2 separate regions of the Homo sapiens genome follow, and region 1 is linked to region 2. Evidence: fine-mapped expression QTL. A gene starts in region 2. The other region holds a variant in brackets. All regions are shown on one strand. Distances are from middle to middle.

The links. PIP is the estimated chance that this variant, and not a neighbour inherited with it, causes the effect.
Region 1: its variant is the best candidate, but not a certain one, in a credible set for the expression of PCDHGA2 in esophagus muscle (GTEx, PIP 0.71).

Annotation. Positions count from the first base shown.
Region 1 is chr5:141,377,962-141,394,388 of GRCh38, forward strand. All of the region lies in intron 1 of PCDHGA1 (protocadherin gamma subfamily A, 1), which reads left to right. All of the region lies in intron 1 of PCDHGA2 (protocadherin gamma subfamily A, 2), which reads left to right. The region is part of intron 1 of PCDHGA3 (protocadherin gamma subfamily A, 3); the gene reads left to right. All of the region lies in intron 1 of PCDHGB1 (protocadherin gamma subfamily B, 1), which reads left to right. It also overlaps PCDHGA4, PCDHGB2, PCDHGA5, PCDHGB3, PCDHGA6 and PCDHGA7, and 3 more genes. The variant G/T (reference allele first, on the strand shown) is at 4,249.
Region 2 is chr5:141,327,902-141,344,328 of GRCh38, forward strand. PCDHGA2 (protocadherin gamma subfamily A, 2) reads left to right here and starts at 10,859. Exons shown (of 4, transcript NM_018915.4): 1 at 10,859-13,494. The coding sequence starts at 11,071. It overlaps PCDHGA1 (protocadherin gamma subfamily A, 1), which reads left to right and starts at 2,613. Exons shown (of 4, transcript NM_018912.3): 1 at 2,613-5,204. The coding sequence starts at 2,784. It overlaps PCDHGA3 (protocadherin gamma subfamily A, 3), which reads left to right and starts at 15,928. Exons shown (of 4, transcript NM_018916.4): 1 at 15,928-16,427. The coding sequence starts at 16,133. It also overlaps PCDHG@. RefSeq lists a silencer at 5,769-5,998.

The sequences.
Region 1 (16,427 bases), 50 kb after region 2:
TGAATCTATGTTCCTGGGTTGCAATCCTAAAGCTTGGCTCAAATAAGCTCTACTTATATTATTTTTTAAAACAAGACTTTCCTTATCTATCTGACTCAAATTCTAAGAAAATAATTTTATAACTTTTTTTCAAACTCTAAAGCAGCATAGTGAACACGTATTTGTTGACATCACCATTATTATAATTATTGGGTTGTTAACAATAACTAAGCACCGATGCTGTGTGCCTACTACAGTGTCTTTTGCATACTGTGTGCCTGATAGTATTTAAGAGTGAAAATGGCCGGGTGCGGTGGCTCATGCCTGTAATCCCAACACTTTGGGAGGCCAAGGCAGGCATCTCACGAAGTCAGGAGTTCGAGACCAGCCTGACCAACATGGTGAAACCCCGTCTCTACTAAAAATACAAAAATTAGCCAGGTGGGGTGGCATGGGCCTGTAATCGCAGCTACTCGGGAGGCTGAGGCAGGAGAATCGCTTGAACCCATGAGGCAGAGGTTGCAGTGAGCCAAGATCGTGCCACTGCACTCCAGTCTGGGTGACAGAGCGAGACTCTGTCTCAAAAAATAATAATGATAATTAATAAATAAAGAGTGAACATGAATTTTAAAACATGCTCGGTAGTGTCTGCTTACAGGACATATCTCTAAAAATAGATGACTGACTGGTGAATGGGAGAACAAATGTTAATGAGGTTCAAATAAAAATTTAAATATTTTAGCATTTTAACCCAGACAATAAGGCTTTCATCATATAGGAACTCTTTATTGAAATATTTCAAGAAAAAAGGGATTATCATTTAGAAGACTGATTAGTCTTATTTATTATGACTGAAATGTGCAAACAGAATCATTGTTTCATGAACAGAAAACAGCAGAGTTTTTGACTGTCAATGATGTTCGAATAGAAAATGGATCACTAAGGAGATAGGAGATTCTGTTATCGACAGTCTTCAAAAGTAAGTTGATGGCCCTGGAATGAATGGAGTACAGGGGATTCTCTAATTTGATGACTTGTTGAACTACATTATAGTCAAGATTTTTCTCCAGTCATGAGTTGGAAGATTCTACAATCTGGTGGTATTATAGAATGGATTGGCCACTTGTGCATCTGAATTTGTTATGAATGTGTAAGAAAAAAGCAATTGAGAAGATACCTTGAAAATAAATGAGAACCTCCTTTGTAACCTGACTTTGTCAGTCTTCTTAAAGATAACATTGAGTTGATGTGTTTTTAAATAAGCTGCTAAGAGTAATATGTGTTTTTCTGAACCAATATTGTGGTATTTACATTTAAGGAATTGTTATAGATTTATTTATTTCAAGTTTCCAAAGGTATATACCTAAACAAGAGATCTAATCATACACATCTTCAAAGCTCATTTTCTTGTATCTTTGTGATATAATTTGATAAAATAACAATTTTAAACAACTTGAATCTTGGATATTAGTCTCATGAGTTAGATGGGCTGTTATACATATGATTATTTCATAAACTCTGAAAGTGTGAATGTTATTTTACTATACTACCAATTTGGGATGTTAAACTACATCTTGAGCATTTGTTGTTATAGGGAAAGCTCACTAACTACTTTTCATGGAGATCAGGCTGGTTTATTTTATTCTCTTATTACCTGTGACCATTTCATTTAAACAAATAAAATATTTCTCTGATGGAAAAACTACCAACTTCTACTCTCACAAAAGTCATTCACTCATGTGGACTGACCAACTGTTAAACATCCTGGCAGTCATGGAATTTGCTAAGTTATGGCTAAATGAGGTTCTTTAATCCACCTGCAATACAGATCATTAATAATAAGATAGGCTATCTGAGGTTTTGAGAGTTCAGTATAGAATTTTGAAGCATCAGGAAAAAAAACTACCAAATTATTGTCTTATTCTTATTTTATGGTCTGTGAAAGCCTCTTTTTTTTTTTTTTTTTTTTTTTTTTTTTTGTCAGAGTCTTGCTCTGTCTCCCAGGCTGGAATGCAGTGGTGTGATCTCTGCTCACTGCAACTTCCTCCTCCTGGGTTCAAGCGATTCTCCTGCCTCAGCCTCCCAAGTAGCTGGGATTACAGGTGCATGCCACCATGCCTAGCTAATTTTCATACTTTTAGTAGAGATGGGGTTTTACCATGATGGCCAGGCTGGTCTCAAACTCCTGACCTTAAGTGATCCACCCGCCTCAGCCTCTCAAAGGGCTGGGATTACAGGCATGAGCCACTGAGCCCGGCCTGAAAGGCATTCATTTCTGATCAGGCTTCTGTTGAGGTGGCAATTGTCAAAGGGGAAGGAGTAAAATCTCAGAGGAGAAACATTGGAAGATACCTATATCTTTGCTTGAGAATGAAAATCTAAATGGAACTTCAAAGAACTGTTTTGTTGTTTGTTTTTTAGAAAAAAAAGTCCCAAAAAAGAAAAGAGAGAAGATAATCAATTCGATGCCCAGGAAGCCAAATAGACTTTACATAGAATTCTTTTTAATGCAACCAAACAAATGGTCAGGATTCTTCCCAATATCTCAGTCAACAATAATATACACTCTTTAAACTATGAAATGATTTCAATTTGATACAATGAGCTTATGTTAGATTTTATTAAACATATCTTGGCGGTCTAGTAAAGATCTTTAATATTTAATTTTATGATGTTCGATAACTTAGAAAATGTGAATGCTAGAGACAATGAAGCCATTTACTCCATAGGGTATGTATGCTTTGTGTTCGGAGTAGTCTATAATTTAATTTAACTAGCTCTTATTTCCTTTTCTCCAAAGAAGGTACCAAGACACTATAAATTAATTGAGACTTTTTTAAAACAGTAGAATAAGAAACAAATGTGAGATGAAACTATGAATTTTGAGGCATCAGGTAAAAATGGATCAAGACATTGAGAGCTATAACCTCCAAACATGAAAGTTTGTTTGAAAATATCTACAAGTGCTTACATTGTTTAATAATCATACACTTTGCTTGCCTCAACAAGAAGTTCAAAAGTACTATTAAACAAATAGAATTTAACTCCAGTTTACAGAATTCATCTATAATACCTCTATTAGTTCCTTTAAACAAAATTTATCTACTTTGTGAATGCAAAGATAACTATGGATTATTTTGATAGATCAAAACAGAATGTCCTTCAAAGTGTTCCCTGTATTCTGGAGCAATGCCACCAGAAAGCAGAAATAGGTTACTTAGGAGCCTCCCACAAAACGAAGTTAAGCTTTCTTAGTGTTAGTTCTGGATTCTCCTCCTGGTTCCACCAACTACTCTCCAGGACCTAGAAGAATTTACAAACCAAGACTGTTTCTTGCCAGGTCTTTATTCCAGAGCAGGTCATTCTCTTTTATTCTGCAACTATGTGAAAGGAGCTTTCTTTTCTTTCTGCTAGCAGAGGGTAGCCTCGGATCCATCAATAATTTAGTTTTACTCTATCAACATCAGTGGAGAGACGAGTACCTCTAAGGATCCTGTCAGGACAGTCCTGCATTTTGCTCAAATGCTGTCTAGAGATCCCTGTTTTCTCAATTACACTAGAATAGAGTAGGATGAAGATTTGAATTGCATACTAGGATGAAGACTTGAATTGAATTGCATAATGAAAAGAATCAGCCAATCCATTATCCAGTTTCTTATGAATTCACAGCCCAGTAGGATCTCTGCAGATTTCTGCCTTCTGTAGAAAATGGGTTGCTTCTATAGCTGATTGCTGCAGCCAAGACAAACAACGATTTCTTTCTTTTTTTCTCACAAGACTGGGAGTGAGAATATTTGGATTCCGACATTGTTCTACTACTATATAATCAATAATCAGGAACAAGGCAAGGCAATTCCCTCTTTCTTTCTTTCTTTCTTTCTTCTTCTTTTTTTTTTTTTTTTTTTTTTGGCAGAGTTTTGCTCTTGTTGTCCAGGCTGGAGTGCAATGGTGTGATCTCGGCTCACCACAACCTCCACCTCCCGGGTTCAAGCGATTTTCCTGCCTCAGCCTCCTGAGTAGCTGGGATTACAGGCGCGCGCCACCACGCCCGGATAATTTTGTATTTTTAGTAGAGACGGGGTTTCTCCATGTTGGTCAGGCTGGTCTCAAGCTCCCGACCTCAGGTGATCCGCCCGCCTCGGCCTCACAAAGTGTGGGATTACAGGCGTGAGCAACAGCACCTGGCCCCCCCTCTCATTTTTTAAACGGTTAAAATGAAGGTGTTAGACCGTCTCTAAGGTTCTATACAATCAAAAATTTATTAAAATA[G/T]GTCTATATATTTTACAACAATTTTGACTTTCTGAATCTTGCATCATGGTGTCTAGAACATATGTGTTCAATTAATACTGAATTAATTAAAATTTATATACACTGATGTAAATATTTTCTAAGTAAAATCTTTCATATGTATTTAAATAAAATTTACCTTTTTGCCTTCAATAACTGATTTTCCCATGTGCAATAACGTGTGAGTCAGTGCCCAAAAGAGTCACTTGAAAGTTGCAAGGCAAAGCAGTTTTTTAAAAATTATCTAAGATTATCAAACACCGGTCCATGAACACTGTTGCATTAATTCAGTGTCTTAAAATGGATTTTTAATTATCAGGGATATCTAGAGCAAAGAAATCTAACAGGGAAATTTTGAAAGATGAAACAATTTTCTATGAAATCAGTGTATTGTGTGCATCAATGTGGTGCAGTAACTTAGTAAGGACTCACAGCGCCGCTGTTCACCAACCAGGGAAAAATGGTGCGAGAGATCCCACAGAAACCACCGAGTTTTACAGCACAGAGAAACGACAGATTGCGATAAGCCCTCTTCCAGGCTGCACTAAACTCAAGCCTCTATCCTGCTGGATTCTGAGCTCCCCTTCCTAAGACAGAGGGGTCCACCCGGATACACCCGCATTCTGAAGCACTTCCCGAGATCGGCGCCTAAGCAAGAGAAGCAGGACGACTATGGCGGCTCAGCCGAGGGGCGGGGACTACAGAGGATTCTTCCTGCTCTCCATCCTCCTGGGGACCCCCTGGGAAGCCTGGGCAGGACGTATTCTCTACTCCGTGTCGGAGGAGACGGACAAAGGGTCCTTTGTGGGAGACATCGCCAAGGACCTGGGGCTGGAGCCCCGGGAGCTGGCGGAGCGCGGAGTCCGCATCATCTCCAGAGGTAGGACGCAGCTTTTCGCCCTGAACCAGCGCAGCGGCAGCTTGGTCACTGCGGGCAGGATAGACCGGGAAGAGATCTGCGCTCAGAGTGCGCGGTGTCTGGTAAACTTTAACATCCTGATGGAAGATAAAATGAATCTTTACCCTATAGACGTGGAAATAATAGATATTAATGACAACGTTCCAAGATTCTTGACGGAAGAAATAAATGTAAAAATAATGGAGAATACAGCTCCTGGGGTTCGGTTTCCGTTAAGCGAGGCTGGGGATCCAGATGTGGGCACGAACTCCCTCCAGAGTTACCAGCTCAGCCCCAATCGCCACTTCTCCCTGGCTGTGCAAAGTGGAGACGATGAAACTAAGTACCCGGAACTGGTGCTGGAGCGGGTGCTGGACCGGGAGGAAGAGCGGGTTCACCACCTGGTCCTCACAGCCTCTGATGGCGGCGACCCGCCCCGATCCAGCACCGCCCACATCCAGGTGACAGTGGTGGATGTGAATGACCACACGCCTGTCTTCTCTCTGCCTCAGTACCAAGTAACTGTCCCCGAGAATGTGCCAGTGGGTACAAGACTGCTCACGGTACATGCTATCGACCTGGACGAGGGAGTCAATGGGGAAGTGACATATTCTTTTCGGAAAATAACTCCTAAACTTCCAAAGATGTTTCATCTGAACTCGCTTACAGGAGAAATATCAACTTTAGAAGGATTAGATTATGAAGAAACTGCCTTCTATGAAATGGAGGTTCAGGCTCAAGATGGTCCTGGTAGTCTGACAAAGGCAAAAGTACTGATCACAGTTTTAGATGTAAATGATAATGCTCCAGAAGTGACTATGACGTCTTTAAGTAGCTCAATCCCTGAAGACACACCTCTTGGGACAGTCATTGCTCTTTTCTACCTACAAGACAGAGATTCTGGAAAGAATGGTGAGGTGACCTGCACCATTCCAGAAAACCTACCTTTTAAATTAGAAAAATCAATAGATAATTATTATAGATTGGTCACAACCAAAAACTTGGACCGGGAAACACTCTCTTTGTATAACATCACACTGAAAGCCACAGATGGTGGAACTCCTCCCTTGTCCAGGGAAACTCACATATTCATGCAGGTGGCAGACACCAACGATAACCCACCCACCTTCCCCCACTCATCCTACTCAGTCTACATCGCTGAGAACAACCCCAGAGGGGCCTCCATTTTCTTAGTGACTGCACAGGACCACGACAGTGAGGATAATGCCCAGATCACTTATTCCTTGGCCGAAGACACCATCCAGGGGGCTCCAGTGTCCTCCTATGTCTCCATAAACTCTGACACTGGAGTCCTGTACGCGCTGCAATCCTTTGATTATGAGCAGTTGAGAGAACTACAACTAAGAGTGACTGCACATGACAGCGGGGACCCGCCTCTCAGCAGCAACATGTCACTGAGCCTGTTCGTGCTGGACCAGAATGACAACCCGCCCGAGATCCTGTACCCGGCCCTCCCCACAGATGGTTCTACTGGCATGGAGCTGGCACCCCGCTCCGCAGAGCCCGGCTACCTGGTGACCAAGGTGGTGGCGGTGGACAAAGATTCAGGCCAGAACGCCTGGCTGTCATACCTCCTGCTTAAGGCCAGCGAGCCAGGACTCTTTGCGGTTGGGCTGTACACGGGCGAGGTGCGCACGGCTCGGGCCCTGCTGGACAGAGATGCCCTCAAGCAGAGCCTCGTGGTGGCCGTCCAGGACCACGGTCAGCCTCCTCTGTCAGCCACCGTCACACTCACCGTGGCTGTGGCTGACAGCATCCCCGAAGTCTTGGCCGACCTGGGCAGCCTTGAGCCCTCCGACGGTCCTTACAACTATGACCTCACGTTGTACCTGGTGGTGGCGGTGGCCACAGTCTCCTGCGTCTTCCTAGCCTTCGTCCTCGTACTGCTGGCGCTCAGGCTGCGGCGCTGGCACAAGTCACGCCTGCTGCAGGCTTCAGAAGGTGGCTTGGCGAACGTGCCCACCTCGCACTTTGTGGGCATGGACGGGGTGCAGGCTTTCCTGCAGACCTATTCCCATGAGGTCTCCCTCACCGCGGACTCTCGGAAGAGTCACCTGATCTTCCCCCAGCCCAACTATGTAGACATGCTCATCAGCCAGGAGAGCTGTGAGAAAAATGATTCTTTGCTAACATCCGTAGATTTTCAGGAATGTAAAGAAAACCTGCCAAGTATTCAGGTGAGCCCAGCCCTTCCTTTATTTCCATGAGGAATTTATTTGCATGATATTTCTCTATTATTTTGCAAAACAAATGTTTTGAAAATAGGGATTTAAAAAACTTTATAGAGGTAAAAATGAGTTTACCAGTTTCCTTCAGTGGTGACACTTTAATATAGAACACATAGGATATAGTATTTCTTTAGTGAAAGCCTATGGACAAGATTATGAATATGTGGACTATCACATTTTATAATTTCCACCTACTTTCCAATCTATGTTCCAACCTACTTTCTTAACTCATATATTTTATACATTGGAATGAATCGAGTCTTTCATATTGCACAAGGTTAGCAGGAATAAAACACACCTCAGCTGTCTTCTCAGGATTCTCTTTAGCATTCAAATATGTAAAAGGTTCTGAAAGATTTCTTCCATGTGAAGATTTTTTTCTGTGGCTGATTCTGCCTCCATGTACCTCAGCTTGGTGGTCCTAAAAAATCTTGATTGCTTCTTGACCTATTTACAGTATAATCATTTATTAATGGGGTGGTAGTAGAAGGTTGGATTTATGCCTAAAGAATGAAATGTGTGTGTATCACACTTCACTAAGATCTATATCAAAGACAGACATCAAGTCTAATGCCACACTAAAGGCCATCGGACAAAACCAATAAAATATGTCAAATAAAATGTCATTTTAAGTGTTGTAATTGGCATTTGTGACATAGGCAATTACATGTTTTAACAGAGAATTCCAGTATGTTGTTTTAGTGGTACAGCCAGATGAAGTGTGTCTGTGGGCTATCAAAGTGGGAGATTGGGGATACTGGCTTTGTTTCAACTGTCTCACGTACTCAAACCTTAGACCATCTTATGTACACAGATCCTAGACCAGTAGTTGATTTTATTTATTAGGTCTACTGAAAAATTCAGTTGGAAATAACCCAATCTGGGATTAACTACTTCCATATTCTTTTGTATAACATTTTAGTAAAGCTCAGTATATCAAGTGATTGTCATCCAGAAGGGGTGGATGACAAGGTAATCTTGATTCCAGAGACCTTTGAGTATTAATTAAAAACACACTTTTAGCCAGGTATGGTGTTGCAAGCTGTAGCCCACCTGCATGGGAGGCTGAGGCAAGAGGACAGCTTGAACCCAAGAATTGGAGGCCCACCTAGATAATATAACAAGACTCTGTCTCTTCAAAAAAAGACTCTTTTTAGACTAGTGTTGTATTTGGTAGTATTTTGCACATGATAGACTCTGTACAATAGTGTGGGGGATACATTTTTTTTTTTTGACATGGAGTCTCGCTCTGTCACCCAGGCTGGATACATTTTACAAGTTCTGCAGTGTTCACATTTCAGATGTACAATCACTTGGGGTAGAAGACAATGTTGCTGACACCAACAATGTTACTGAGGGAAGATCCTATGGCAGAACTACGGTTATAAGGTATTTTGTAAAAGAAAATCTCCTGACCAAAATTTATTAGATGCATAAAATTGTTTTTAAGCAATGGAGAGACATAATCACTAAACTCAGTGAGCTATTGCAATCAAACTTTCCAGGGATTGTTTCCTTCAATTCAGAGGTCACCAAGGAATGTAAAATAAGTGCAGAGGTAGGAAGCAGTGCTTCAGTGCAGCAGATCTCAGTGACTTTGTGTTTTGAGGCTATGTATTATCCCCCTGATAACTTTGAAGATGAATGTTGTATTTCATAACCAGTAAAATAATTGTGTAATGAGGAGAGGAGTAGGCTACTGCCTGTGATCATCGAAATGAGAATCACATAATATTCCTGTAATGAAATCACTGAAACTATTGGGAAGGGGGTGTATTTGAAGATAAGTATAAATTGCACCTTCTAAAAGGCAATTTTGGTATTACTGATACTCTCCGGAAAAAGTTGAAATAAATCAACTTGGAGGTACTTAGAAAAGTGGAGAAAATGTTAGGAACAATGAAAGAAAGATAAAATGTATCCAGTATATTTCTAATGAGTAAGTATGGAAAATTACTGTACTCTGAGACGGTTTAGGCCAAGTCTGTGTTATGGCTATCTTTATATAGATAGTGCATGTTTGAAGATTGGGGAAAGCTTATGTCAATAAATGTTTATGTACTTAATCTACATGATTTGCCTAAAAATCCTCAAAGTTGGGATGAAGGCATTCCTAAGAGTACATTTTTAGACGTCATTAAATATACAGACGTATCCACGTAGTTTTTGTTCTTTCAGTTAGGCACACAATTATAATTATTGCACTGGTTAACTTGAAGCAGCAGAGGCTGTAGTTTCCTAGTGCTGACTCTGGGCGCCGCTGTTGGCCAAAGTGGAGAGCTTGGCGCTCCAGATCTCCTCGCGCAGCCGCAGCGCGCTTTCCAGGGCAGCCCCAGCTCAGACTCCCCAGCGCCAGCCTTTACACCGCTTCCTCCTCGGAAAAAGAAGAATTTTTTCTTGAACTGGAACTGCAACTAAAGTCCGTTCGGAGATCCAAAAATCTGCAATACAGAGGTTATTTGTAACCCGGCGTCTCCAGGCTGGTGAGCAAGCTGAGGAGAGCAAGAGGGATGGGGAGCGGCGCCGGGGAGCTGGGCCGGGCTGAGAGGCTGCCAGTGCTCTTTCTCTTCCTGCTGTCTTTGTTCTGCCCGGCGCTCTGTGAGCAGATCCGCTACAGGATTCCCGAGGAAATGCCCAAGGGCTCCGTAGTGGGGAACCTCGCCACGGACCTGGGGTTCAGCGTCCAGGAGTTACCGACTCGAAAACTGCGCGTCAGTTCGGAGAAGCCTTACTTCACCGTGAGCGCAGAGAGCGGGGAGTTGCTTGTGAGCAGCAGGCTAGACAGGGAGGAGATATGCGGGAAGAAGCCAGCTTGTGCTCTGGAATTTGAGGCTGTTGCTGAAAATCCACTGAACTTTTATCACGTGAATGTGGAGATCGAGGACATTAATGACCACACGCCAAAATTCACGCAAAATTCCTTTGAGCTGCAAATAAGTGAGTCTGCACAGCCTGGCACACGATTTATATTAGGATCTGCCCATGATGCGGATATTGGTAGCAACACACTGCAGAATTACCAACTCAGTCCCAGTGATCATTTCTCACTGATAAATAAAGAGAAATCAGATGGCAGTAAATACCCTGAGATGGTATTGAAGACACCTTTGGACAGAGAAAAGCAGAAATCCTACCACTTGACTTTGACTGCCTTGGACTTTGGAGCTCCACCCCTAAGCAGCACTGCACAGATACACGTTCTAGTGACTGATGCCAATGATAATGCTCCAGTGTTCAGTCAAGACGTATACAGGGTGAGCCTTTCAGAAAACGTGTACCCGGGGACCACGGTGCTACAGGTGACTGCCACGGACCAGGATGAGGGTGTCAATGCCGAGATTACTTTCTCTTTCAGTGAAGCTAGCCAGATCACCCAATTTGACCTGAACTCTAACACCGGGGAAATTACTGTTTTAAATACATTAGATTTTGAAGAAGTCAAAGAATATTCCATAGTTTTGGAAGCAAGGGACGGTGGAGGAATGATTGCGCAATGCACAGTGGAGGTAGAAGTCATAGATGAAAATGACAACGCCCCAGAAGTGATATTCCAGTCTCTACCCAACCTAATTATGGAGGACGCCGAGCTGGGAACACATATTGCTTTGCTCAAAGTCCGTGACAAGGATTCCAGACACAATGGAGAAGTGACTTGTAAATTGGAAGGTGATGTTCCATTTAAAATATTAACTTCTTCAAGAAACACGTATAAATTAGTGACAGATGCTGTTCTAGACCGCGAGCAGAATCCAGAGTACAATATAACCGTTACGGCAACAGATCGGGGCAAGCCTCCCCTCTCCTCCAGTTCCAGCATCACCCTGCACATTGGTGATGTAAATGACAACGCTCCGGTTTTCTCACAGTCTTCCTATATAGTCCACGTGGCCGAGAACAACCCGCCTGGAGCCTCTATTTCACAAGTCAGGGCTTCTGATCCGGACTTGGGGCCCAACGGCCAAGTCTCTTACTGCATCATGGCCAGTGACCTGGAGCAGCGGGAGCTGTCATCCTACGTGTCCATAAGCGCGGAGAGCGGGGTGGTGTTCGCGCAGCGCGCCTTCGACCACGAGCAGCTGCGCGCCTTCGAACTCACACTGCAGGCCCGCGACCAGGGCTCGCCAGCGCTCAGCGCGAACGTGAGCCTGCGCGTGTTAGTGGACGACCGCAACGACAATGCGCCACGGGTGCTGTACCCCGCGCTGGGTCCCGACGGCTCTGCGCTCTTCGATATGGTGCCGCACGCTGCAGAGCCTGGCTACTTGGTGACCAAGGTAGTGGCGGTGGACGCAGACTCAGGACACAACGCCTGGCTGTCCTACCACGTGCTGCAGGCTAGCGAGCCCGGGCTCTTCAGCCTGGGGCTGCGCACGGGCGAAGTGCGCACAGCGCGTGCCTTAGGCGACAGGGACGCCGTCCGCCAGCGCCTTCTGGTCGCCGTGCGTGACGGTGGACAGCCACCACTCTCGGCCACTGCCACGTTGCACCTGGTCTTCGCCGACAGCTTGCAGGAGGTGCTGCCGGATATCACTGACCGCCCCGACCCCTCTGACCTCCAGGCTGAGCTGCAGTTTTACCTAGTGGTGGCCTTGGCCTTGATCTCAGTGCTCTTCCTCGTGGCCATGATTCTGGCCATTGCCTTGCGCCTGCGACGCTCCTCCAGCCCCGCCTCCTGGAGCTGCTTCCAGCCTGGTCTCTGTGTTAAATCCGAATCCGTGGTTCCCCCCAACTACAGCGAGGGGACTTTGCCTTATTCCTACAATCTATGTGTTGCACATACAGGAAAGACGGAGTTTAATTTCCTAAAATGTAGTGAGCAGTTGAGTTCAGGACAAGACATACTTTGCGGTGATTCATCTGGGGCCTTATTTCCACTTTGTAATTCCAGTGAATTGACTTCCCATCAGGTGAGTTTCCTTTAAGTATAATTTAATGCTCATTGCCTACCCATTTCTCCATATTCACAAGAAAATATACATATTTGCAGGAAAATATATAATTTTTAGATGTCATGGATCATTTTAGGAAAGTTGTAGTCAGTTAAAAAGCTGTCATATCATTCTACAAAGGAGGAGTAAAGTAGGAGCAATTGTGTGGCCCAACATTTGTTTGTTTTTTAGCCAAGCTTAGATTTATAAAGCAATGAGGGTGTGGTTTTAACCACAAAGTGAAAGTGTTAGACAGTTGTTGGCTCTCTCCTAAAAAGTGAATGAGATTTTTCCTATACATTTTCCTTCTTGTTGACTAATATATGATGAATACTTTTTTCAGCTTGGATATACCATAAATATAAAAATAATAAAGCCAAAGAATTTAAGCTAAAATTCAACACTTTTCTTAACTAATTTAACTGGTATGGTCTCCATAGTAGTCCACTGTTTTGTTTCCTGTGTTAACTTCCCTTTTGTTTCAAAAGCTCTTAGAATAAGGAGTCAACTGGATTTTTATGTCCATGGACCCCTTGTGATTATATGCAGTGTACGCTGTGTGTGCGTGTGTGTGTGTGTGTGTGTGAGAGAGATCCTTTTACTTAGAAAAAGGTCTACTATGCTCATTAGAAGATCAAAAGCAGATTCTCCTTACTTGTAACATAGGAGTTTCAGGATTAATCTGTATTCAAGCTCATTCTATATCCTTCATCAAAGAAAAGACAATGTTTTGTGTCTGTTGTCCCTCTCACACACAGCCCTAATATATAATGTGTAACTGCCTTATCTGCAGCCCTAAACTAATATAGCTAGAGGTCTTCTAATCATTCTCCTACCTCTAGGAAAGAAATATAGTCTTGAAAACTGCCAATCTGGTGTGCATACAAAATATATACAAAATACCAAGGAACATTATATGAGCCTTTTGCTAGGTATATCTAAGCAACTGCTTCAGTTAATGGCCACTTTACAAATTGCTGAAAGAAGGAAACGTCTTTCGATTCTTTTTTTTTTCTTTTTTTTTTTTTGAGACAGAGTCTCTGTCTGTTACTCAGGCTGTAGTGCAGTGGCACAATGATAGCTCCCTCCAGCCTCAAACTCCTGGGCTCAAGCATTCCTTCTGCATCAGCCTCCTGACTAGCTGGAACTCAGGCTCATGCCACCAGACCTGGCTAATTTTTCTGTTTTCAGTAGAGAAAATATTTTCTTTCACTAATTTAACTGGTATGGTTTCCATTGTCTACCCAGTTTTCCATATGCATAAGAAAATATATTCACAGGAAAATATAAAGTTTTCAGATTTCATGAGTGGTTTTAAGAAAGTTTTAGTCAGTGAAAAAACTATCATACCAGTCTTCAAAGGAAGGGTGAAATAAGTTCATCTGCTACGTTGCCCAGGCTGGTCTTGAAGGGAAACAGACTTTTTTGTAGTCATACTTATCCTTTGGCTTCTTAGTAAGTATTATATAGTCATTACTTTTTGCAGTTTTTTAGATCAAAGTGTTAATGTAGGTAAAGTTAATTTTAGAATATATGTAAAAGTCAAGTCTGCTTTAAATTTAATCATCTCTTTGGTGAAAGGGATGGGATGGAGCTTTGCTTTTTATCATATATTCATCTGTACCTTTCAAGTATTCAAATAGAAAAATATAAACAATGTAAATAAAATAGCAAAACAATGTAATATCTCATAAAACTGCAATGGTAAAAGCATTTATCCTATTGAAATTCCACAATTTTTATTTGAAAATATTATCGACATGTAATTCAAGTGGCATTTAGAAGAATAATTTAAAAGCAACAACTCTATAGAAAGCTTGTAAAATGATTAAGTAGTTTAAACCAAATAAAACAATTTCTGAGTCAGTCATCTCCAGTAGGTCTATTTTAGTCTCAAGATAAATTCATTTCTGGTGACAACTGAAGTTCTTAGTTATTTGTTAGTATATATTGGAGACATTTACAATAAAGCTTAGAGCACAATGGGAAATGAAAGTATCATGTTTTTTTTAAGACCAAATGTATTGCAGAAATGTGAGTAATTTAATCCGATGCTACAATCTGATCATTCTGATCTAATCTGATCATTTAATAACACTAAATAAAACCTTCATCTCACATTCTTTGGCTGTTTCTTTTAAAATATGGGTTTACGGATAAATCAAATAAATTCAAAACAAAGTAATAAGCAAATGATTTTTTTTTCTCAGTAATCTAGTAGAGTATTACATTTAGAAGTAATCTGTATCTCAGTGCAGTAACTATTTAGGACTGTAAGCGCCGCTGTTCACCTACTGGAAGACAAATGCAACCGAAAACACTCAGATCTCACACCTCACGAAGACCCGCAGATGCCACAAACTAACTGCTGGACTGCAGCGAAACCCGACCCCTGTTTGGAGGCACTCCAGGTTTCCGGAGGATTGTCATCTCCATAGCTGCGGCAAGAAACTAAATAAGACCCATTTATGCACAGTGAAGATTCTGAGAGGATTCTGCAGCAAAACAACAATGGCCGCTCCACAGAGTCGCCCCAGACGCGGCGAGCTGATCCTGCTGTGCGCGCTGCTGGGAACGCTGTGGGAAATCGGGAGGGGACAGATTCGCTACTCTGTGCCAGAAGAGACGGACAAAGGCTCCTTCGTGGGTAATATCTCCAAGGACCTGGGGCTGGACCCCCGGAAGCTGGCGAAGCACGGAGTCCGTATCGTCTCCAGAGGTAGGACGCAGCTCTTTGCTCTGAACCCGCGCAGCGGCAGCTTGATCACCGCGGGCAGGATAGATCGGGAGGAGCTCTGCGCTCAGAGCCCGCGGTGTCTGATAAATATTAACACCCTGGTTGAGGATAAAGGAAAACTCTTTGGGGTAGAAATAGAAATAATTGATATTAACGATAATAACCCAAAATTCCAGGTCGAAGATCTAGAAGTAAAAATTAACGAAATCGCGGTTCCTGGAGCACGTTATCCACTCCCAGAAGCTGTTGACCCGGATGTGGGCGTGAACTCCCTCCAGAGCTACCAGCTCAGCCCCAATCACCACTTCTCCCTGGACGTGCAGACTGGAGACAATGGAGCCATAAACCCAGAGCTGGTGCTGGAGCGCGCCCTGGACAGGGAGGAAGAGGCTGCTCACCACCTGGTCCTCACGGCCTCGGATGGCGGCAAGCCGCCTCGCTCTAGCACAGTGCGCATCCACGTGACAGTGTTGGATACAAATGACAATGCCCCGGTTTTTCCTCACCCGATTTACCGAGTGAAAGTCCTTGAGAACATGCCCCCAGGCACGCGGCTGCTTACTGTAACAGCCAGCGACCCGGATGAGGGAATCAACGGAAAAGTGGCATACAAATTCCGGAAAATTAATGAAAAACAAACTCCGTTATTCCAGCTTAATGAAAATACTGGGGAAATATCAATAGCAAAAAGTCTAGATTATGAAGAATGTTCATTTTATGAAATGGAAATACAAGCCGAAGATGTGGGGGCACTTCTGGGGAGGACCAAATTGCTCATTTCGGTGGAAGATGTAAATGACAATAGACCAGAAGTGATCATTACGTCTTTGTTTAGCCCAGTGTTAGAAAATTCTCTTCCCGGGACAGTAATTGCCTTCTTGAGTGTGCATGACCAAGACTCTGGAAAGAATGGTCAAGTTGTCTGTTACACACGTGATAATTTACCTTTTAAATTAGAAAAGTCAATAGGTAATTATTATAGATTAGTGACAAGGAAATATTTGGACCGAGAAAATGTCTCTATCTACAATATCACAGTGATGGCCTCAGATCTAGGAACACCACCTCTGTCCACTGAAACTCAAATCGCTCTGCACGTGGCAGACATTAACGACAACCCTCCTACTTTCCCTCATGCCTCCTACTCAGCGTATATCCTAGAGAACAACCTGAGAGGAGCCTCCATCTTTTCCTTGACTGCACACGACCCCGACAGCCAGGAGAATGCCCAGGTCACTTACTCTGTGACCGAGGACACGCTGCAGGGGGCGCCCCTGTCCTCGTATATCTCCATCAACTCTGACACCGGTGTCCTGTATGCGCTGCAATCTTTCGACTATGAGCAGATC
Region 2 (16,427 bases):
TCTTCAACAAGCCTCCTATTTCTTTTGGGTGACTGGGAACACTGCCCAGCACCTCCATCACATGCTTTAGCGCTTCCCACCCTAACTTAGGGTCCCATATGCCTCCTGTTTCTTCTTGACCAGTGACCTGCCACTGTGGGCACTGTCATTCTACATGTCAGTGAGTGCAGAGTGCTATGGTTACCATGCAGACTATCTTTGAGCTGACTCTGCAGGCCAGTGACCAGGGTTCAACTTGCTCAGTGTCATCCTGAACCTGCATGTGATGGTGGATGACCATTGCAAAAATGCAAGGACACTATGCCAGGAGTTGCAGCCAAGTGGGGCCCTCTTTGATGCTGCACCACTCACAATGCAACCCAGCTATCCCATCACCAAAGTGGACACCAGCTGGGGCATAAAGGCTGACTGTCCTATCATGTGCTTCAGGCCAGCTAATGTGGCTCTTCAAACTAGGGATGTGCACGAGCTAGATGCGTGCCGTGTCACTGTGGGTAACAGAGATGCAACCTGCCAAGGTTTGTTGGTCACCGTGGTCAATGGTGAATCATCACGCTGAAACATCACCTGGTTGCTGCTCATAGTTTGCAGGAGTTGCTACCAGACCTCAGCAATCGCCCAGCACCCAACAGCAGGCAGCAGACAGCACCCAACAGCTGGCGATGGCCGTTGCCTTGATCTCCATGCTGTTTCTCCTCAGTGTGACTCTGGCCATCTCTCTGAACCTGCAATGCCCCCTATAGCTCCATTGCCTGGGGCTGTTTTCAGCTGGATCTCTGGTCCAAGCCCGGATATGGAGTTGTCTCCAACTTAAAGAAAGGAAATTTGCCCTGTTCCTACAACGTATGTGTGGTTTTAGATATTTTTAAAATCTTAATTTCTTTAACTCAAGAAACAGCTTTGAACCAGGTATTCTCTGCAGTGCCAGCAATGAAGCTTTGTTTTATTTTTGTTTTTGTAGAAACGGGGTTCACTATATTGACCAAGCTGGTCTCAAACTCCTGGCCTCAAGTAATCTGCCCACCTTGGCCTCCCAAAGTGCTGGGATTGCAGGCGTGAGCCACTGTGTGTGGGCAGCAATGAAGCTTTAAATGTTGCATTTGATTCAAATGTATTTGTGTGATATTTTAACATTTTTATTTTATACTTACCATCCTTTTATAAATCACTCCTGCGTGTTTTTGGTTGCTGAAAGTAGGGAGCTCTACAGGTTTACTTACTAGTTCTTATGTATATTTTAATTTACCTCATTAGCTCACAATTTCTTTGGGGAAAAGTTTATGCCTATTAATGTGTATTCTGAAAAGTTACATTCTCTGTTAAAGAGTTACTTCCTTGCAATATTGAAGATGATTTATTGCACCTTTAAATTTCTACTCTTTGGCTCCATGTACTTGTCTTTGAGAAGCTGAGAAACTGTAGATTTGGTTAAGAACTAAAGTTCTCTTTCCAAAAACTATTATTGAGACCTTTCATTGTTTTCTTTCTTTCCTCATTTTTAACTTTTCTCAGTCATGGTGTCCATGGGTTGGCTGGCCGAATTTGTTCCTGAAATTATCAGACTCTGGAGTACAGATAGCATGCTTCTCTAACTTTGGGGTAAAGATAAGTAAGTCACTCTAAGCCTGAGACATTTTAATTAGTAACCCTTTGCTAATAGTGCAGTGATTAAAAAAAAAAGAAGGCCACATCCTCAACTGGTTAAAAAATACTGTTAAGAGAAAACCAACTTCTCTTGGAGAAAATATTAAGTGCGATTATAGAGGAATACATATTATAAGAGCCTATCTAAAAATAAAGATGAGACCATTTTTCTTTTCAGCTGTGAAGAATAATATCATAGACTTTGTCTCTGAAATTTGAAATCTAAATTATATATTCATGTGACTTTTCAATGAAATTCCAAGAGCCCAGTTTTATTTTTTTCAAAATATATTGCCTTTGGTGAATCTTAAGAATTTTTTAAAAACCCACATAATGCAAAGACACTTCAAAAAAAAAAAAGAGGAAAAATAAGGATAGGGTTAAACCATGCTCTTCAAAATCCCAAGGTTTCTGATAAATATTCAAATCATAATGGGAAGGAAATGGGATGGTATGATTTTTTTAAAGTCTAGCTTATATTCTAAAAGATTATTTTTCCCTCTAATACTTTTCACCCTCCAGTCAAAGGGGAGCTGCTCTATGTGGCCTGGGAAATTACCAAGTGGTCAAACTTTACTACAGAAAAAGTGGAGAGATGATTTTGTCCTCATTGTAATGTTAGGTTTTTACTATAATTCCCTGAATAGCAAACTTGGAAAGCAGATAACATGGGAATACTTGGATTCTCCTGTATATTTCAATTTGGTGACATTTAGGCACATTTAAAGAAGTGAACATATAGTTTCTCTTTTTCATACATATATTGTAGAATTATTTCCTTGACAATAGACTAAAACTTAAGAAAATAACAAGTTAATGAGAAGGTTTTCAGTATTTGCTAGGAATGCAGTAACTGGTTAGGACTGTGGGCGCCGCTGTTCACTAATCTGGTAGATACAGGCAGTACACACAGGTCAGGAGGAGGAAAAAAAAAAAAAAGAAAAAGAAAAAAGCTCTCGTGCCTCTTAGAACCTCCATAACCGCCAGATTGAAAACTGACTGTCCAAGACTGCCTAAATCCTACTTCTGGATGACTCTCCAGTCAGAATTCTCCTGAAAATTGGGTTAATTTCAGCTCAGAAAAGCAGAAACGATACCCTTGGTACTGGACTGGAAGAAAACTACGAAGTGAGAGAGCCATGAAGATTCAGAAAAAGCTGACTGGCTGCAGCAGGCTGATGCTTCTGTGTCTTTCTCTGGAGCTGCTGTTGGAAGCTGGGGCTGGGAATATTCACTACTCAGTGCCGGAAGAGACAGACAAAGGTTCCTTCGTAGGCAACATCGCCAAGGACCTAGGGCTGCAACCCCAGGAGCTGGCAGATGGCGGAGTCCGCATCGTCTCCAGAGGTAGGATGCCGCTTTTCGCTCTGAATCCTAGAAGTGGCAGCTTGATCACCGCGCGCAGGATAGACCGGGAGGAGCTCTGCGCTCAGAGCATGCCGTGTCTCGTGAGTTTTAATATCCTTGTTGAGGATAAAATGAAGCTTTTTCCTGTTGAAGTAGAAATAATTGATATTAATGACAACACTCCCCAATTCCAGTTAGAGGAACTGGAGTTTAAAATGAATGAAATAACGACTCCAGGTACCAGAGTCTCATTGCCTTTTGGGCAAGACCTTGATGTGGGTATGAACTCACTCCAGAGCTACCAACTCAGCTCTAACCCTCATTTCTCCCTGGATGTGCAACAGGGAGCCGATGGGCCTCAACATCCAGAGATGGTGCTGCAGAGTCCCTTAGACAGAGAAGAAGAAGCTGTCCACCACCTCATCCTCACAGCTTCTGATGGGGGTGAACCAGTCCGTTCAGGGACCCTCAGAATTTACATTCAGGTGGTGGATGCAAATGACAATCCTCCAGCATTTACTCAGGCACAATACCATATAAATGTCCCCGAAAACGTGCCGCTGGGTACTCAGCTGCTCATGGTAAATGCCACTGACCCTGATGAGGGAGCCAATGGGGAAGTAACGTACTCCTTTCACAATGTAGACCACAGAGTGGCCCAAATATTTCGTTTAGATTCTTACACAGGAGAAATATCAAATAAAGAACCACTAGATTTCGAAGAATACAAAATGTATTCAATGGAAGTTCAAGCCCAGGATGGTGCGGGGCTCATGGCTAAAGTTAAGGTACTGATCAAAGTTTTGGATGTAAATGATAATGCCCCAGAAGTGACCATCACCTCTGTCACCACTGCAGTTCCAGAAAACTTTCCTCCTGGGACCATAATTGCTCTTATCAGTGTGCATGACCAGGACTCAGGAGACAATGGCTACACCACATGTTTCATTCCTGGAAATTTACCCTTTAAATTGGAAAAGTTAGTTGATAATTATTACCGTTTAGTGACTGAAAGAACACTGGACAGAGAACTTATCTCTGGGTACAACATCACAATAACAGCAATAGACCAAGGAACTCCAGCTCTATCTACTGAAACTCACATTTCACTACTAGTGACAGATATCAATGACAACTCCCCAGTCTTCCATCAGGACTCCTACTCTGCCTACATTCCCGAAAACAACCCCAGAGGAGCCTCCATCTTCTCTGTGAGGGCCCACGACTTGGACAGCAATGAGAATGCACAAATCACTTACTCCCTAATAGAGGACACTATCCAGGGGGCACCCCTATCTGCCTACCTCTCCATCAACTCCGACACTGGGGTCCTGTATGCGCTGCGATCCTTCGACTATGAGCAGTTCCGGGACATGCAACTGAAAGTGATGGCGCGGGACAGTGGGGATCCGCCCCTCAGCAGCAACGTGTCTCTCAGCCTATTCCTGCTGGACCAGAACGACAACGCGCCCGAGATCCTGTACCCCGCCCTCCCCACAGATGGTTCTACCGGCGTGGAGCTGGCGCCCCTCTCCGCAGAGCCCGGCTACCTGGTGACCAAGGTGGTGGCGGTGGACAGAGACTCGGGCCAGAACGCCTGGCTGTCCTACCGCCTGCTCAAGGCCAGCGAGCCGGGACTCTTCTCGGTGGGTCTGCACACGGGCGAGGTGCGCACGGCGCGAGCCCTGCTGGACAGAGACGCGCTCAAGCAGAGTCTCGTGGTGGCCGTCCAGGACCACGGCCAGCCCCCGCTCTCCGCCACTGTCACGCTCACCGTGGCCGTGGCCGACAGGATCTCCGACATCCTGGCCGACCTGGGCAGCCTCGAGCCCTCCGCCAAACCCAACGATTCGGACCTCACTCTGTACCTGGTGGTGGCGGCGGCCGCGGTCTCCTGCGTCTTCCTGGCCTTCGTCATCGTGCTGCTGGCGCACAGGCTGCGGCGCTGGCACAAGTCACGTCTGCTACAGGCTTCGGGAGGCGGCTTAGCGAGCATGCCCGGTTCGCACTTTGTGGGCGTGGACGGGGTTCGGGCTTTCCTGCAGACCTATTCCCACGAGGTCTCCCTCACTGCGGACTCGCGGAAGAGCCACCTGATTTTCCCCCAGCCCAACTATGCGGACACACTCATCAGCCAGGAGAGCTGTGAGAAAAAGGGTTTTCTATCAGCACCCCAGTCTTTACTTGAAGACAAAAAGGAACCATTTTCTCAGGTAAACTTTTGTGATGAATGTATCAGCTATCTAGAGAAAAATAATTCTTGATTTAACTTACTAGCGTTCGCTCTTTGCTACAGATAGTTCTTCTAACCCATGTATCTTTGTAGCTTTTTATTACAAGTCCTGCAAAATCACGATTGAGTCTACACGTTCATATGCAGGTATATTTATAATTGTTCTTGCACTGAAAAGGAGACTGTGATCATAATGTAGGTGGTTGGGTTGAAGGTATGTGTGAGATGCCATCTCTGTTTGGAAAGAGCACTGCATTAGAAACGGCGATCTAGCTTCTAACATTTTCTTACTTGCCTCTGGGCTAAAAGGTTTGATTAGAAAAGGCTCACCAATATTTAAATGACTAACACTATTTTCAAATTTTCTTTTTATAAGTACCTGCTAATCTACCCCTGAATTTAATGTAGATGTCATCTGTCAGGACACTGTGATAGTTTATTTGGGGACATTTGAAGAGGTGAAGATTGTCTAAAGTAGTATTTTTAGTTGTGTTCATATAAGATTATAGAGATCTATATAAACTGCAATTTTAAATTATTGTTGAATATTTTAGCCTTTTATTCTATCTTTATTATCAGATTTTTTTGGTTTTGAGATGGGGTCATGCTAGAGTGCAGTGGCATGATCATGGCTCACTGCAGCCACTACCTCCTGGGCTCAAGCGATCCTCCCACCTCAGCCTCTCAAAGTGCTGATATTACAGGTGTGAGCTGTGGTGCCTGTACTGAAGAATACGTCTATTTAAGTAATGTATGAAGTAACAAAATGAACAACACAAAATTTATCATGCAACTTGAGAAATATCTTTGAAGCCTCCTGACTTATACATTATACCTGTAATGAAATCAGCTAACAAAAATCAAGTATATATCCTATTTTAATGTGTGTTAACTTTTCAGAAGAAAAAAAAAGTATGGTCGGGGAGTAAGTCCATGCTTTGATGTATTTACTCTGCTCCAATAAAATACAGAGATACATAAAATATAAGAGGAAAGCAAAAGCAAAGTGGTGAGCTAGTCTAAAGCCATGTGAGTTATAGTCTTGGACTTAAAAGCAGAAATTGAAGGTTAGGAAACTGCCTCCAGCAATGTAATAGGGACAGAAGTGCTTCAGACTAGATAAATATCTGGACCAGGCTTACTGCCTGAATCCAAAATAAGCAATGAGGCCCTTCAGCTGGTTAAAAAGGAAAAGAAAGATGCATTAACATGCTGCCTAGCTGGGCGCAGTGGCTCACGTCTGTATTTCCAACAATTTGAGAGGCTGAGGCGGAAAGATCCTTGGAGCCCTGGAGTTCAAGACCAGCCGGACAGGGCGGCCTGCGACTGTAGTCCCAGCTACGCGGGGCGGGGAGGGGCGGGGCGGGGCGGGGCAGGAGCTGACGTGGGAGGATCCCTTGAGCCCAGGAAGTCAAGGCTTCAGCGAACCGTGATCGCGCCACTGCCCTCCAGCCTGGGCGACAGAGCCACACCCTGTTAAATAAATAAATATAATAATAAAAGCTGTTTCCCAATTCCGGTGGTTATAACTTTCTTCGTAAGCTGTGTAGACCAAGAGAGAGAGACAGACACGGATGCTGGATAGAGACAGCGAACACCAAGTATCTCATATGTGAGCTGTGGTATCCAGAATATCACTGCTGTGCATCATTAAAGCGTCATTAAGAGACCTAGTTATGGCCTGGGACCTGAGGTCAGATAGAAACTATTTCAAAACCATTACAAATGAGCACTGAACCCAGGAGGGAAGGAGAGAGGGATATAGTGTAGAAGAGAAAAAAACAAACTAAAACTAAAAACAAACAGAGCTCTTCCACTAAAAATAAATATACAAACCAAAATTTCAAAACACACTTGTCTCGTAGAATTTATTGTTACTAGTGAGAAACTTTCTGTCAACACACTGTTATTTTTTAAGGTAATCTCTGTTTTCTCTCTGGTAACTATTGAAGACTTTCTCTCATTCTTGCTGTGTGTCTGTTGCATTTTTATTTTTATTTTTTGCTTGGTACCAAGAGTATACTCTCAATTGATAACTAAGTTATCTCACTTCTGGACTTTCTCAGCTCTTATAATCATAATTTTTTTTCTGTGTATATACAAGTGAGCTACATTTACCTATTAAAGGACAAATATTACAAAACTGGTTGATTTTTAAAATCCATATTCTAATAATACACGTGCTTAAAATAAAAATACACTGAAACAGTGAAACTAAATATATATGTACACACACAAAAAAGAAAGTCATGTTAATGTAACAACAAAGTCATATTTAAGGTAACAAACACAAATTGTGATTTTAAAAAATGAACTGATTATAGTTGTAAAAAGAGCAGATGATCAAAAGGATATAAAAATATAAGCTTCTATTACTGAAAAATATAGCTTAGAAAATACCGGAATATTTAAACATAATTCCATAAGAAATAATAGACCCCACAGGAAGAAAGTTAGTTAACATAAAGAAGATTTGAACAACATAATTTAGAAGCTTGATCTATTAGGATTCTAATAGATCCGTTCTGCACACAACAAATATGGAATAGTCATCCTTGAACAAGCAGACAATCTACAAGTTTATTACCTAGTCATTACAAAAAAGGGTTCAGCAAATTGCAAAGTACCAATAATATACTTGCCTTACAACACATACTTAATCACAAAGCAAACATTTAAAAATAGAAAAGGGAAAAAGTTTGGATATTTACATCTACACCCTTAAATAACTCTTGGATTTCAAAAATCACAATGACAATGAAAACTACTCAGAAAAAAAGGACTTAAATATTCTTTATTAAAAATTGTGAGATGCAACTAAAACTAATTAGGAGTAAGTTTATAGACAAATGCAATAATTTTTTTAAAAGCAAACAAAATTATTTAAAATACATGAATTTAGCTTGCCATTCAAGAAGTAAGATAAAAAACATACAATGAGTATATACTAAAATAAAATGATGGAAAAAATAACAAAGAGTTACATTTTTGAAATGCAACCATGGAAGAGTTCTGAGGATGAAATAATGGAAGCAGACAATAAATGTAATAAAACCAGTGGGGAGAAAATGAAAATTCTGTCAAGTCTAACGTTAGGACTCATGTAAGAGAGCCAGGCACAATGGCACACCTATAATCCCAGGTACTGAGTAGGCTGAGGCAGTAGGATTGCTTGAGCCCAGGAGTTTGAATCCAGCCGGGGCAGTATAACAAGACCCAATCTCTATAAAACAAAAAAACACAAACACAAACACAAAAATAAAAATAAAAAACAAAAGCAAAATATACCATAGTAGCTCTACAAGAAAACATGGTGAGTTGGTATCAATTATTTCCAATATATTTTTCTTCAGTCTTGTAAGAGGAATGGATGAAAGTAAAAATGAGAAAATTTCAATAAGGAAGGAGCCAAAAGGCAAACAGATTAAAGTGTCACCAGAAATGGGCAATTCCACTTATGCCACATACAAAAATTAATTCAAAATGGATCAAAGAAGCAATATTCAGAAGCAATAAAACCCTTTTAGTTATTATGTTTAAGAACTAAAACTATACAACTCTTAGAAGAAAACAGGAGGAAACCTTCATAACATTGATTTTTGGCAATGATTTCTTGGATATGACACCAAAAGCACAAGCAACAAAAGAAAAAAATTGTATACTGGACTTTATCACAGTTAAAAACTATATGCAGCAAAGAACAATATCAATAGAGTGAAAAGGCAGCCCACAGAAAGAGAGAAAATGTTTCCAAATCATGTATCTGAGAATGGATATCCAGAATAAAGAACTCGAACTCAACAACAAAGAATCCCAAACAATTGGATGTTAAAATGAGCAAAGGACTTGAATAGACATTTCTCCAAAGATGATATACAAATGGCCAAAACCATATGAAACAATGTTCAACATCACTAGTCATTAGGGAAATGCAAATCAAAACCATAATGAGATACTACTCCACATTCATTAGAATTGCTGTCATAAAAGAAAAGAAAAGAAATGTTAACAAGAATATGGAGAAATTGGAATTCTTGTGCATTGCTGGTGAATATAAAATGACACAACTGCTGTGGAAAATGGTATGGTGACTCCTCAAAAATTTAAACATAGAATTACCATATAATCCAGCAATTCCACTCTGGTTATTACCCAAAAGAAGTGAAAATAGGGACTTCAACAGATATTTGTACACCTATGTTTATGGCATCATTAGTCACAATAGTTGAAAAGTGGAAGTAACCCAAGTGTCCATTGACAGATGAATGGGTAAATAAAAAGTGGTTCACACATACAATGGGCTGTTATTTAGCCTTAAAAAGGAAGGGAATTCTGTTACATGCTACAATATGGACGAACTTCAAAGACATGATATCAAGTGAAATAAACCTGTTATAAAATGACAAATACTGTATGATTCCTCATATATGAAGTTCCTAGATTAGTCAAATTCATAGAGAAAAAAGGTAGAATGGTAGTTGCCAGGGACTGGGTGAAAGGCAATGGGGAGTTGCTATTTAATAAGTACAGAGTTTCAGTTGGGGAGGATGAAAAAGTTCTGGAAGTGGATGGTGGTAATGGTCACACCAGAATGTAATTTGAATGTACTTAATGTCACAGAATTGTATGCTTGACTATGGTCAAAATGGTAAAGATGAAACAAGAGTAAGAAGACATCCACTGCATTGTATTTTACACCCTTGGAAAATGAATATCAGAAAAAGAACTTGACAACCTCAAACAATTTTGAGTGACTGATTCCTAGTGTGGTGAAAAACCCCTTCCGGCTCTAGCTTTATCAAATAGACCTGCTTTCTGTTTCTGTAATGTTCCATGCTGTCTCTTACCTTCAAGCATTTGTTCAGAGGTTCTAGAACACTTCTTCAGCCTTTTTCTTGATTCAATCCTACTTTTTATGATTCAGCTTCAATCATGCCCTCAAAAAGACTTTTCTGACCCCAAATCTAGACTGGATACCCCTCCTAGGTATTCCTCCATCACCCAGTGTTTCCTACCTCATATCACAGCAGTTACCATACTCTATTATACTCTCTTTACTTTCTTATGTCCTCCTCCAACCTTCACGCTTGAGACCAGGGCCTGTGTTTATCATGTTCACCATTTCTAGCTCCAGCTGCAATCATGCAAAGTGGGAGGCACATGTACCCAATTAAGTGTCTGATGATTCAATAATTTAAAGGCAGATTTTGAAGGTAAATGCAAAGCCATCAACCATAAACGTTCAAAATATATAACCTTAGAAGAAAACGTAGCTAACGTTTCTTAATTGATCTTACTGCTTCTGATTATACAATAAGAGATGGAAGATGTTTGGAGCAAGGGCAGTGGTGGCATTGATTAATGCCTTGAGCAGTCAATAATACTTTCCTAGCAACTATTATCAAGATCATGTTCATTTATACCATTCTTATTAATCCTGATAAAAAGATTCCTGTTTTGAAAGATCTAATTCTAGGGTATCTTAGAGCTGTAAGATTCTTTAAAGCGCCTTGAAAGTCAACAAAGGCAAACAAACAAGAAGTAACTTAGGTTTTCCTGAGCAGGTGCAGAAATTATTTAGGCCTCTGAGCGTCGCTGTTGACCACCTAAGGAGTAAAAGGCAGCGAGACATCCAATCCAGCAATACGGCTCCCACAGCACAAGGGGGTGGAGGTTTGGCCCTAAAGCTTCAGGACACCAAAGAAATTCAGTCGAACAGCCCACCAGTTCTCTCCATAGGGACCTGGGTCCCGTGAATGCTGGTTATCTCACACCCTGAGGAATAAAGATTGGAATCCGCACTGGATGCTGGAAGTTGACTCGGAGAAAATTGCGACAGGAGGGAAATGGCGGCTCTGCAAAAGTTGCCACACTGCAGAAAGCTGGTCCTGCTGTGCTTCCTTTTGGCGACCCTGTGGGAGGCCAGGGCCGGGCAGATTCGCTATTCTGTGCGGGAAGAGATCGACAGAGGCTCCTTCGTAGGCAACATCGCCAAGGACTTGGGTTTGGAGCCCCTGGCACTGGCAGAGCAGGGAGTCCGCATCGTCTCCAGAGGTAGGTCCCAGCTCTTTGCTCTGAACCCGCGAAGCGGCAGCTTGGTCACTGCGAACAGGATAGACCGGGAGGAGCTCTGCGCTCAGAGCGCACCCTGTCTGTTGAATTTTAACATTCTGCTGGAGGATAAATTGACTATTTATTCAGTAGAGGTGGAAATAACAGATATTAACGATAATGCCCCTCGCTTTGGAGTAGAGGAACTGGAGCTAAAAATCAGTGAAACCACTACGCCAGGATTCCGGATTCCTCTTAAGAATGCGCATGATGCAGACGTAGGTGAGAACGCCCTTCAGAAGTACGCACTCAACCCAAATGACCACTTCTCCCTGGACGTGCGAAGGGGAGCTGATGGGAACAAGTACCCAGAACTGGTGCTGGAGCGCTCTCTGGACCGCGAGGAAGAGGCTGTTCACCACCTCGTTCTCGTGGCTTCTGATGGGGGTGACCCAGTGCTATCTGGCACCTCCCGCATCTGCGTGAAGGTCCTGGATGCGAACGACAATGCGCCTGTTTTTACACAGCCCGAGTACCGCATAAGCATTCCGGAGAATACGCTCGTGGGCACCCGGATACTCACGGTGACCGCCACTGACGCAGATGAGGGCTACTACGCTCAAGTGGTATATTTTCTAGAGAAAAGCCCTGGAGAAACCTCAGAGGTATTTGAGCTTAAGTCAACATCTGGAGAACTGACAATCATAAAAGATCTAGATTATGAGGATGCTACATTCCATGAAATTGATATTGAAGCTCAGGATGGTCCGGGCCTTCTAACCAGAGCGAAGGTTATCGTCACGGTTCTGGATGTGAATGACAATGCCCCAGAATTTTACATGACATCTGCTACTAGCTCAGTTTCTGAAGACTCTCTTCCAGGAACCATAATTGGGCTTTTTAATGTACATGATAGAGACTCTGGGCAGAACGCATTCACCACCTGTTCACTCCCCGAGGATCTTCCTTTTAAGTTAGAAAAGTCAGTAGACAATTACTACCGACTGGTTACAACCAGAGCCCTTGACAGGGAACAGTTTTCCTTTTACAACATCACTCTAACCGCTAAAGATGGAGGGAACCCCTCCCTGTCCACGGATGCTCACATTTTGCTCCAGGTGGCAGACATCAACGACAACGCACCCGCCTTCTCCCGCACATCCTACTCCACCTACATTCCCGAAAACAACCCCAGAGGAGCCTCTGTCTTCTCAGTGACGGCCCATGACCCCGACAGCAACGACAATGCTCATGTAACTTACTCTTTCGCGGAGGACACTGTTCAGGGGGCACCCTTATCCTCTTACATCTCTATCAACTCCGACACTGGAGTACTCTATGCACTGCGCTCCTTTGATTATGAGCAGTTGCGAGACTTGCAAGTGTGGGTGATAGCGCGGGACAGCGGGAACCCTCCACTCAGTAGCAATGTATCATTAAGCCTGTTCGTGCTGGACCAGAACGACAACGCGCCCGAGATCCTGTACCCTGCCTTCCCCACAGACGGTTCCACTGGCGTGGAGCTGGCGCCCCGCTCCGCAGAGCCCGGCTACCTGGTGACCAAGGTGGTGGCGGTGGACAGAGACTCGGGCCAGAACGCCTGGCTGTCTTACCACCTGCTCAAGGCCAGCGAGCCGGGACTCTTCTCGGTGGGTCTGCACACGGGCGAGGTGCGCACGGCGCGAGCCCTGCTGGACAGAGACGCGCTCAAGCAGAGCCTCGTGGTGGCCATCCAGGACCACGGCCAGCCCCCTCTCTCCGCCACTGTCACGCTCACCGTGGCCGTGGCCGACAGGATCCCCGACATCCTGGCCGACCTGGGCAGCCTCGAGCCCTCCGCCATACCCAACGATTCGGACCTCACTCTGTACCTGGTGGTGGCGGTGGCCGCGGTCTCCTGCGTCTTCCTGGCCTTCGTCATCGTGTTGCTGGCGCACAGGCTGCGGCGCTGGCACAAGTCACGCCTGCTGCAGGCTTCAGGAGGCAGCTTGACAGGCATGCAGAGCTCGCACTTTGTGGGCGTGGACGGGGTTCGGGCTTTCCTGCAGACCTATTCCCACGAGGTCTCCCTCACTGCGGACTCGCGGAAGAGCCACCTGATTTTCCCCCAGCCCAACTATGCGGACACGCTCATCAGCCAGGAGAGCTGTGAGAAAAAGGATTTTTTATCAGCGCCTCAATCTCTACTCGAAGAAGAAAGAGAAGAAACGTTTTCTCAGGTAATCTATCTTTTCACAACATACGTACTAGCTAGTTTGCTGAAGTAATTCACTTACTTGTTTACTATATCTATTTTGTTCCCCATATTTCCTTGAGGGTAGAGTCAAGTTTTAGGAAGTGAGTCTTGGTGAATTATTTCTTGGTAGGTCTTAGTGTTCACAGGCTGTAAGAGGAAGAAGAGACGTGAGAATCTTTGTGCAATGAATGTAAACCAGGAGTTAATAGATAAGATTATCCAAAGAGCACTGCATTAGGAACTAGGGTGTCTGGTTTCTTATACTTTCTTCTCCATCCCTGGGCAAATCATCTCATCCACCCAGATCAACAATTTTTTCTTTGTTAAAAATATAAAGATTGGAGTTTATGTTTACTCAAGTCCTTTCTTCTTTTAAGTTATGACTCTTACTCTATATTTGAATCTGTATATGAACAGTGAAACATGTTAGTTGGCTAGTTCTTTCTCATTCAGTCTTAATACATTTCTTTCAGTTTGGCAGCAAAATTGTTTTCCTTAACTTGCATGCCCTTCCCTGTTAAAAATATGGAAATTTAGAAATATACATTCCTTACAGTGTTTCAGGAAGGTATGTCATATTATTTTGGCTTAGTTTTAAAAATCACATTAACCTCTAAGCTATATGCTTCTTGAAGAAGTGACTGACTTATCATCTGCTCTATAATAAAGCTGTAGAGTGGTAATAAACAGGTTTCTCCTTTTTTTTTATCTTTCTCATACGTGGGAACCATACTGTATTTTAATCTTTAAAATAATATATATCCTCAATATAGTTTTGCTTAAAGAAAAGATACAAAAGATTCATATCATACAATTGCCCAGAACCAACTTCTTTATACATCTCTCTTCTCAAGGTTTCTACTCACAATAGCTGCTAGAAATGTTCCCAATCCCTCACCCAATCCCAGTGCCCCTCTGATCAATTTTCTTTTCCCATTCCTCTTCCTATATTGGCTTTTAGTATGTTGGTTATGTATTTAATAACAGAGAATAATAAGCACACTAATGTTCTATGTAACTGGCATCATTTTTTATTTTTATTTGAAAATTATCATGTACCAATTGAGCCTTTTATTGAATGATACCATATTTCTCAAAGTGCTGTGATTCTTTCCGTTGCATTTGATCAAGAAAAAATTTTCTGAGACAAGGTGTTGTTTTGGTTACTATTACATAATTGTCTATGAGTAAAATTGGAACTCACTGTGGAATAATATGTCATAATAGCTTTACTTGTAAGTGAATAATAAAGTATAAACAGGAAAATTAAAGCAAAGTTATTTTTAGTGTGTGTAGTAACTCCACAAGAATAAATGTCTTATGCATAGATATGTAATGCATCATGATTGAAACGACAAATATATTGTATTTATATTTCTGTGCTTGGAAACTTATGGGGAAAGAGATTCTGGAACATAAAAGCTTATTTCTACTAGTTTCAGTTGGTTTTGAAAAAACATCCTTACAGTCTAGATTTAAACAAAGGAAACTTCTTTCAGTACCCTGAAGGTCTGTGATTTCTCTCTCACACCTAGGCATTGTCATGCTGTTCTCTCCCACATCCAGGCCTTTTCACTGATCCACTCCTCTCATGTTTCCTGGGAAAGCGTTTGCTAACATTAAAGGCCCAATTGAAGGCCCCCCTAACCCCCTTGGCTTCTCCCATTATGGTAATTATCTCAGTACACTGCAATTCCCTGTTTGCTTTTATATCCTTATAATCTCTGTGAAGGAAGCTACTGTGTCTATATTGTTCACCTTAAATCCCCAAACATATTGTCTGATGCCTAATTATGTGTTTGTTTAATGAATATTAAATAACAACAAATATCGAAACTAAGTTATCAGGTCACCAAGAACAAACTTAAAGAAATATAATGTATAAATATGGCTGATTTCTGTGTGTTTCTTTTCTTTTTTTCCTTGTCTCAGCTCTTAGAGAGTTAAGAGTATAGAGAGGGAAAGGTCAAAGAGGAGGTGGATATCTTATCAAATAACCCTGATAAATGTAGTAAGTATAAGAATAAACACATTATCAAGGTTCAGTGGTGGAAGAACAAGTGGTGGTCATGTCTTTTAATAGTTGTGTTGGTCCTTACGGCCAGTTCTTTGTTACTGTGTGTTTCTTAAACTGAACAATTCAAAAAAGTTAACTCCACTATGTTTGAAGCAATATTGGTGGCATTAAGGTTAGTGCATGGATTCCCAAGAAAGATAACTTGAGGTGACACTGTTTAACATATATCGATTCAATTATGTTCAATCAACACTAGTCCTCTTATCTCTGACAAGAAGGATTTCAGATCTTGGATAATTCAAAAATAATAATGTGTCTGAGAGGATGCAGTAAACGGTTAGGCCTCTTAGTGTCGCTGTTGACCACTCAAGAAGGAGAACGCAGCTGGAGAACTAGTCCACCATTTCCTTGCTCCTAAAATGCAAAGAACCAGCAAATCAGACTCAGAAGATCCGGGGCGGCTGCCAACCTCACCTCTTAGTCAACCAGCTGTTTGACCTGTGAATTAGGCCCGTAAAAGACTTCGTTTCTTGAGAAAATAAGATTGGAGTCCGTCGTAGGAAACTGGAACCGAATTCAGAGAAAGCGATTCACCGAAAAGGAAATGACCAATTGCCTGAGTTTCCGAAATGGCAGAGGACTGGCCCTGCTGTGCGCGCTCCTGGGGACGCTGTGCGAAACAGGATCCGGTCAGATCCGCTACTCGGTGTCTGAGGAGCTAGATAAAGGTTCCTTCGTGGGCAACATCGCTAACGACCTGGGGCTAGAGCCCCGGGAGCTGGCGGAGCGCGGAGTCCGCATCGTCTCCAGAGGTAGGACGCAGCTTTTCTCTCTGAATCCGCAAAGCGGCAGCTTGGTCACCGCGGAGAGGATAGACCGGGAGGAGCTCTGCGCTCAGA